2 separate regions of the Homo sapiens genome follow, and region 1 is linked to region 2. The links come from fine-mapping of genetic effects on gene expression. A gene starts in region 2. The other region holds a variant in brackets. All regions are shown on one strand. Distances are between the middles of the regions.

Region 1 (4,385 bases), 22 kb after region 2:
CTTGAACTCCTGACCTCAAGCAATCCGCCCACCTCGACCTCCCAAAGTGCTGGTATTATAGGCGTGAGCCACCGTGCCTAGCAATGAGAGCAGGTTTTTTTTGTTTTGTTTTGTTTTTGTTTTTGTTTTTGAGATGGACTCTTGCTCTGTCGCCCAAGCTGGAGTGCAGTGGCGTAATCTCAGCTCACGGCAAGCTCTGCCTCCCGGGTTCACACCATTCTCCTGCCTCAGCCTCCCAAGTAGCTGGGACTACAGGCGCCCACCACCACGCCCGGCTAATTTTTTTGTATTTTTAGTAGAGACGGGGTTTCACCATGTTAGCCAGGATGGTCTTGATCTCCTGACTTCGTGATCCACCCATCTCAGCCTCCCAGAGTGCTTGGATTACAGGTGTGAGCCACCGCACCCAGCCAAGAGCAGTTTTACGAGACAAGAGAGTGTTCTGGGGACAACTGCCTGATTGGAGTGAAGCATAAGTATGGGACCAGAGGAAGTGGAGACCACACCTCCAAGGAGTTTTGCTATAAAAGGAGCAGAGACATGGGACTGACACTGGAGAGGGGTGTGGGACTAAGGGAGGATTTTGCTTTAAGGGGAGGAGCTGTTAGACCATGTGTGTAATGCTGGCCAGAATAAGCCAAGAGAGACTGGAAATTGATGATGCAGAAGGAAGAGAAGGGACAAGGCAAGTGTGGAGTCCCTGAGGAATCGAGAGGGTGGGGTCAAGTGCACGGGGAGGGTTGGCCTTGGACAGGAGCAGCAGAGTCCCTCTGAGTCAAAGGAGGAAGGTGGCTTAGACAGGTAAAATGCACTAGGTCTGTGATGGGAGCCTTAGGAAGCTTTCCCCTGATGGCTTCTGTTTTTCCCGAGAAATAAGAAGCAGTGTCCTTAGCTGAGTGAACAGCAGGAAGGGGGTGCTGAGGCTGAAGAAGAGAAGAGAAAAGAAGGTGTGAATTCATCACCCCAGAGCGTGGCAGAGAGAATGGGCCCAGGCGTATAATGGGCTTGCCAGACAGCCTCAGGCCTCCTTTAAGGTAGATGGGCATGGTCAGTTAGGGTGTCTGAGTTTTTTCCTCTTCTAGTCCCTCCAAGTGCAGGTGGGGAGAAGATGGAAAGACGGGTTTCACCAAGATTAGGGATTTGCTGGGCAAATATGATAAAGCAAGAAGGGAGTGGGCAAGGGAGCTGAGCTGTAGGCAAGGGAGTGGTTGTAATGATGGCCCACAGTATCTGGTCAGGTTAAAGGGGGAAGTGGGTACAGAGGGGTGCAGAGAACCCAAAAAGGTGGTAGGATCGATGGATTTTAGGATGGGTTGCTGGTGTACTAGAGAGAGTGAGTAGAAAAAATAGAGAAACAGGAGGTGGTGGGCAGATGGTGGCAGAAGGAAATTGAAGTTACACGAGGGATGCAGTTTTGTTTTGTTTTTGGGTTTTTTTTTTTTTTTTTTGAAACAGAGTCTCACTCTGTCACCAGGCTGGAGTGCAATGGCGTGACCTCGGCTCACTGCAACCTCCGACTCCCTGGTTCAAGCGATTCTCCTGCCTCAGCTTCCCGAGTAGCTGGGATTACAGGCACGCGCCACCATGCCCAGCTAATTTTTGTATTTTTAATAGAGACCGTGTTTCACCATGTTGGCCAGGATGGTCTCTATCTCCTGACCTCGTGGTCCACCCACCTCGGCCTCCAAAGTGCTGAGATTACAGGCATGAGCCACTGTGCCTGGCCTGCAGGTTTTGTTTGTTTGTTTGTTTGATTGATTTAAGAGACGGAGTCTCACCTTATCCCAGGCTAGAGTGCAGTGGCACGATCATAGCTTACTGCAGCCTCTGTCTCCTGGGCCCAAG[C/T]GATCCTTCCGGGTAGCTGGGACTACAGGCTTGTGCCACCACGCCCAGCTAATTATTTTATTTTTTGGAGACAGGGTCTTGCTTTATTGCCCAGGATGATCTCAAACTCCTGGCCTCAAGCTATCCTCTCACCTCAGCCTCCCAAAGTGCTGGGATTACAGGCCTGAGTCACTGCGCCTGGCTGCATGCAGTTGTTGACAAAGACAAGTCCTAGGATATGAACGATGGAGTGGTCCCAAGGTGCAGTCTACAGACCAGTGATGGTTTTGCTCTTATCCAAAGCACACGATTAACTCAACCTTCAAAATCAGAGGTCTGTAGATAACGTCTGAAAAACTCTGTTAATCAGTGGCAGAGCCAGAATCCAAACTCGGGCTTCTGACTCTCAGTCCAGCACCTTTTCAGTGGCGCAGCAGCTAAGTTCCTCTGCTCCTATGAGTGAAACTGATCATCCAGGTGTTGGACTCCTCAAAATCTTTGGAGTGACACATCGCAATCACTTCCTTTAAAAAAAAATGTGATTATATTTCCTAAGAAAACTCAGGATGCTGCCACCAGAAGATCAGGGAATGGGTGCTGAGCAGGCAAAAAACCGAGGCGCCCTAGCCCCTCCCCACACCTGCTCCCTTCTGCATCAGACACAAGCCCTCCCTGCAGCAGATGGGACTTCTAGCCTGAGGGCCTTCGCCTTAGGGTAGCTGCAGAGCCCTTCTGAGAAGCTGATGAATGCAGGAAAATGCATGTGTGCACCCAATCACAGATATGCTCACAGGCCGGATGCTAATAAGATGCTCCACAAACACTTATTGGATGAATGAATGGTTAGAATTCCAGGCAACTCACTTGCTCGCTCCAGATTAAGAACTGGTGTTATGGGCTGGGCGTGGTGACACACGCCTGTAATCCTAGCACTTTGAGAGGTTGAGGCAGGCCAATCACTTGAGCTCAGGAGCTGGAGATCAGCCTGGATAACATGGCAAAACCCCGTATCTACAAAAATAAAAAATTTTTAAAAAAATTAGCCAGGCATGGTGATGTGTGCCTGTAGTCCCAGCTATCAAGGGGGCTGAGATAGGAGGATCGCTTGAGCCTTGGAGGTCGAGGCTGCAGTGAGCTGTGATCGCACCACTGCACTCCAGCCTGGAAATGAGACTCTGTCTCAAAAAAAAAAAAAAAAAAGGAACTGGTGTTAACACTTTCCACTCTGTGTACAGGGACCTCTGTTCTGTTGTAAGCAGATGCCCCTTTTGAATCGGTAGAGGACACCTTCCTTCTCTTTGTAAGCCTCTGGAGGAAGGCTGCCCATTTCCCAGGCTTCCGGCCTCTTCCAGCCCCAGCCTCCCAGAGAGGAATTAGCCCCTTCTTGGGACTTAGGACTGTCCTTAGGGACACCACACTCTTCCTCCTTCATTCAAACTCCACCTTCCCAGAAGGCTGCCTTTCCCTATTCCTAGTCTGCCCTCCCTGACCTCCTAGACATGCCCTGGCATTGGAAGTCCCACTGAGGGCTGTGCTTGAAGCTTGGTGAAAACGAGCCCTCTGAGCCAGTTATCCCTAAGAAGTCACAGTTCCCTGAGTCAGCTCAAAGGATCTATCCTCAGTGGAGCTTCCCAGGAGACTGAGACTAAGGAATGTTTTGAGACACATCTTCTAAGGTTTCCTCACTTCTTCAGGAGGAGACCAGCCTATCCAGGGCCATGTATGCCATGAAACCCTGAGGGCGAGAGCTCACCAATCCTCATGGGTCACCAACCACACCACCCTGAAACTCCAGTGTGATTATGTCATGGAGCTGCCACATGGGATCTAACCTCAGGTTCATGGGACAATTTCTTCCCAAGCCACCAGCTCCACCTCACTACATCTGACCTAGGAAGATAATTAGATATCACACATGCATGGTGTAACGATGGCAGTCTATGAATCCCCTTGGTTATTATCTCTGGGGTAGCCAGGTCTCGCAAGAACAGAGCTCAGCAGGCCTGCCAGGGACTACCACACCCTCTCCTGAGGATGTCGTGTCCATGCAGCTGGCCAGAGGCCGTAGACCCACTGGACAGAGCTGCCCCACCACGCTGCCCCTCCCAGCCCTGCCTGCCTGGGCCCCAGCAATACCAACGGTCATCTCTGCCACATTCTTGCTTTCTCATGGGGGCCCTGTTAGAAACGGGAAGGGAGGAAAGCTGGTGCCCACCTGAGACCCCCAGCTCTGAGACTCCAGGGGTGTTGGAGCAGTTCCCATAGAGAAATCCTCTGGGGGCAGGCACCACTTAAGTCTGTAGGAGAGGTCTCTCCCCAGGGGAGCAGGAAGCCCACACCTGTGTGCTGGTGCCATAGTTCACTCCAACTCCCCAGTGGGAGCCAGTGTCCCTTCCTTAGGGTGCGGGCAAGGGTGGAGCTGGCAAAGCACCAATATGCCTTCAGGGAGAAAGGGCTAGGGAAAGAGGAGTTGAGACACTGCCTTCAAGCCTTTCCTCATCATCCCTGTGTCACCACGAAATAAATCATGCATCATGAGCACTAATGGACTTGTGTTGTCA
Region 2 (4,385 bases):
GGGTTGAGAACAGCCTGTGGTGGGAACATGGCAGAAGCTGGGAGACAGCCCCACAGCCTCTGTGTTCTCCCCACAGTACTCCCATTCACCACCTTCTTGTGGATCTGCGGGTGGTTCGTCCGCACCTTCCGCTTTGTGCCCACGGCCACCTCCTCCTCCTGACCTTCACCGTCACCAATCTGAATTACCCCAACAACCTCTGCTTTGGGGACAGAGTTCAACAGCCCTGTGAAGAGCCTGCCTTTCCACTTGACTCCAAGTTACTTGATAAGACCCAGAACTAGAATAGAGACTTGCCCAATCAATGTTTAAACCAACGAAGCTTTTAGGTGTTGTTTCTCCCATCCAAAAATTTCCCTTCAAACCCCTAAGGGAAGGGGTAAAGGAAGGAAAATTTCATGGGTCCCCTGCTGCAGCTCTGCCTGGGACAGCTGGCCCATGGGTCTGGCTGGGACTGGACCTGGGGACCAGGGTGGGTAAATAAATGTCAGATGTGTGCAAGAGGAATCTGCAGCCAGCAAGCCCTGTTGGGCCCCTGGCTCCCCTGCTCCTCTGAGTCAAGCCCCTTTATTATAAAGGGGATACCTTTATAATGCTTTGCAAATTGGCAGGATGAACACCTGCAATGCCACACCACTGTCTCCCCACCCCACTCCGCCCAACCATCCTCCTGATCCAGACTGCACTGACCTTTTTCTGAGGGAAAGGACATCTAAAGCCATGCCATCCAGTAAGGACACAGCCACATGACAGATGTGGTGCCTGGGCATTTGCAGTGTGGCTGGGATAAATGAGATGCTCTGTAAGTATAAAATAATACCTACCAAATTTTCAAGACTTTTGGTTCACGCCTGTAATCTCAGCACTTTGGGAAGCCAAGGCAGGAGGATCGCTTGAACCCAGGAGTTTGAGAACAGCCTGGACAACATAGCGAGACCCCCATCTCTATTTTTAAAAATAAAAATAAAATACCCTGTACAAAATAAAACTGTAAAATAGCTCATCAATAACATATATAAAAATGTGTTTTGGAATTAAAATGTATTAATTTAAATGTATTAATCTCATGGGTTTCTTTTTCATTTTTGAATGCAGCTATTAGAAAAGTTTATATATGTAGCTCACGCTATATTTCTTTTTTCTTCCCCGTGCCCCAGCCCCCGCCCGCAGACGGAGCCTTGCTCTGTCACCCAGGTTGGAGTGCGATGGCACAATCTCGCCTCACTGAACCTCTGCCTCCCAAGTTCAAGCAATTTTCCTGCCTCAGCCTCCTGAGTAGCTGGGATTACAGGGGCCTGCCACCATGCCTGGCTAATTTTTGTATTTTTAGTAGAGACGAGGTTTCACCACGTTGGCCAGGCTGCTCTTGAACTCCTGACCTCGTGATCCGCCCACCTCAGCCTCCCAAAGTGCTGGGATTACAGGCGTGAGGCACCATGCCCGGCGGCTCAGGCTATATTTCTAGCGGACAGGGCTGTTCTAGAATTATGACTGGCCTCCAGTCATCTCCGCAGAACAAAGCAAAGAGATGCGAAAGCAGGTCGAGCACCATTATTTTGTGAACTGATAATAACAAGATAAGGGTGATCTTGTTTTTCTTTTCTAGTTCATACACATCAGGAGGAGAAAGCAAGAGACATCACAGGGGCTGATCCAGGAGATGAGGGACAGCCTACAACAGCTCCAGCCAGCCTGCCCTTCACCAGTCCGGAGGGTGGTGTGTGTGTGGTGCCAGATTTGCCTATTAGAAGCTCCCACCATGTCCCTATTAAACTTTAGAACCCTCCATGGGCCCCTTACACAGCCCAAGTGCCTCACTATGGGCCTTCAAGACCCTGAACAGCCTGAGCCAAACTTGTCTTTCCAGCTTCCTCTCACATGCTTCCTGCTCAAAACCCCCACAGCTGTCAGTTCATGCTATCATTTAGTCTGCTAATCAATCATTCAACAAATATGTATTGATTACGTCCTACATACTAGCTACTGAGGTCATGATGATTAGCAAAAGAGGCACTGTCCGTCTGCTTGCTGGGGACCACACATCTAGCAGGGAATGACAGGTAAATACATAATAGGCAATTAAGCATATTGCAGTAAGAGTAGTTGTTGGGGAAGCACAGGGGCCATGGGTGCACCAAAGAGGCACCTCTAAACCAGCCTGCAAGTCAGGGAAGGCTTCCTGGAGGAGGTGGCATCTCAGTTGAAGAATGCAAGTTGCCCAGACTGAGGCTGGGGAGTGGCAAATATCCCAGGCAAGGGAGAACTCTTGAGTTCAAAAACTGGAAGGGCAGAGAGGAGGGCAGGGTGCCAGTGGCAAATGACTGGCCTGGTGTATATGGCAGGGGCTTTATGAGCCTTGTGAAGGAGTGTGGCATTTCTTCTGAAGTGTTTATTCTGGGAGTTCCTGTCTCCTGCCTGAAAGGCCTTCACCCCTCCTCCCTGTTCACTCAAATCCTGCTTCCCCAGTAGGATCCAGTCTGTGGGGCTCATTTGAGGGAGAATGAGCACGGGGCTTTTGGAGGCTGCAGCCTAGGGCCAAGGGATGGAGGTACTGGGGCTGTGTTTGGGGGTCCGCTGATGTTGGAATTTGGGGCTAAAGCTGGGTTTGAGGTTGGCGTTGGGTTTGGGGGCTGGATTCAGGAACAGGAGTCGAGGTTCGGGCTGAGCGTGAGGTTGGGATCTAGGACCTTAGTCCAGAATTTGAGTTGGAGTTAGGAGTTGGGGGCTGAGGTTTCTAGCCAGATTAGGGGTTGGATTTGGAGTTGGGACTGGAATTGAATTTGGAAATGGGGCTGGGGGTTGGGGCTGAGATGTGACGCAGGAGCTGGGGCAGGGGTGGAAGCTGGGAGTTCTAGCTAGGGTTTGCAGCTGCAGCTAGAGTTAGGGGTTGGTTTTGAAGCTGGAGCTAAAGCTAAATCGGGGTCGGAGCTGTGGAATGGGTTGGCGCCCAGGCTCTGGGGCAGATAGACGACATTCCTCCTGCTGCCCAGGTCTGCGAATTGTGTTCCGAGCCCTAACTGCAGCGGACAGAAGCCCCTCCCTTCACAGGAATGCCTCAGCCCAGCAGAAGGAGCAGTGCCACGTCAGCCAATCGGCTCAGGCCCTGCCCTGGAAACGACACCTGTTCATCCTCCTCCCGGCAGGCTCACCTGAGTGCAGGTTAGGCAGGTGAAGTGTCTCCCCGGAAACCAAGCTAGAGTGCCCCACCTGCTCGGCCCTGCCTTCTCGGATCGGATCCAGCACATCCAGGCTTCTCGTGAGTTCCCCCATTGTCCCCCAACGCCCCACCGCCCCCATGTTCTCCCACTCGCTTCTCCCCTGAGAACCTCCACCCCGCCCCCAGCCTGACACCCGTTGTCTCAGCACACCTGTGCAAGCATTTTCAGACCAACGAAGTCACAGCCCAGGGGAATGCTGGGACTGACTCCACGGCCACGCCCACCTCCCCCACTTCCTTGAGAGCATCGGCACCAGCCCCCGCCCACCTCGGGGGTAGGGGTCAGCCTCTGCAGAGGAGTCTCCGGGAGGACAGATACCTCGTCAGGATGTAACCTGTGCACGGCCACATAGTAATATTCCCAGAATGACCCAGGACCTACGTCTTCTGCCCTGTCCTGCCTTGGAGGGGTAACATCGTTTTCATGTATTCAAAAAGCACGCTTTGAGCATCTATGCAGGCTCTAGGCCCCACTGGAATTCTGAAACGAAGATGTCAGGTGACTCATCCCCACCCCTCAAGATAAATGTTATTGTCTTCACTTTTCAGACAAGGAGACTGAGGCTCTAAGAGACGAACCATTCAGGCTTCCTGGCCCCTCCCCCAGACCCCTCTCCTGGGCTCTGCAGGGCTCTGGGCTGACTAACCCACACCCACACTTAGCACAGGCACTGGCCTGCTTGCTTCTGTCTCTGTCTTCTGCTGCAGACTGGGGCTCCTTGAAGGCAGGGACCTCATGTGCTTTATTTTTGCCCAATGTGAGACATGCTTTCCTCTGGAGGACAGGTTAAATCAGCAGCCACTGTTAGGTGCCTGGCCATGTTCCTACCGGTGGGAAGGACTGGAGCTGGGGTTCAAATCCAGAGCCCTCCTTTTTCCTTTGCTCCACTTTAGAGAAATCGTGGAGGAGGATGGCATGGGGGAATGGCGAGTGTGGAGAAGAGCAAGGGGAGCAGAAAGACCAGTGAGGAGGTGGAGGCGGGAGCCAAGGATACGAGAGCAGGGAACTGGCTAGAGAAATGTTTAGAGGTGGAGCCCCAGGGACAGGACGTGGATTAGATACAGCAGAGGGAGGAGGAGCTGGCTGAGAGGGCAGTGATGCCATGCCTGAAGTGAGGAACGCAGAAGGAACAGGTTGGAGTAAGACAACGAGCTTGGGTTGGGACCT

Alleles and levels. Positions count from the first base shown, and alleles are read on the strand shown. Sizes are in standard deviations (SD) of each study's normalised expression.
For the expression in ovary of the gene that starts at base 2,446 in region 2, allele C in region 1 goes with a higher level than allele T (moderate effect, 0.45 SD a copy in GTEx).

The links. PIP is the estimated chance that this variant, and not a neighbour inherited with it, causes the effect.
Region 1: its variant is fine-mapped to the expression of TMEM125 in ovary (GTEx, PIP above 0.99).

The regions. Positions count from the first base shown.
Region 1 is chr1:43,289,845-43,294,229 of GRCh38, forward strand. No RefSeq gene overlaps it. Among named protein-coding and RNA genes, the nearest start is that of C1orf210, 6.5 kb to the left of the region's middle. The variant C/T (reference allele first, on the strand shown) is at 1,846.
Region 2 is chr1:43,267,538-43,271,922 of GRCh38, forward strand. It overlaps TMEM125 (transmembrane protein 125), which reads left to right and starts at 2,446. Exons shown (of 4, transcript NM_144626.3): 1 at 2,446-2,548; 2 at 3,144-3,256. RefSeq lists an enhancer at 2,077-2,580.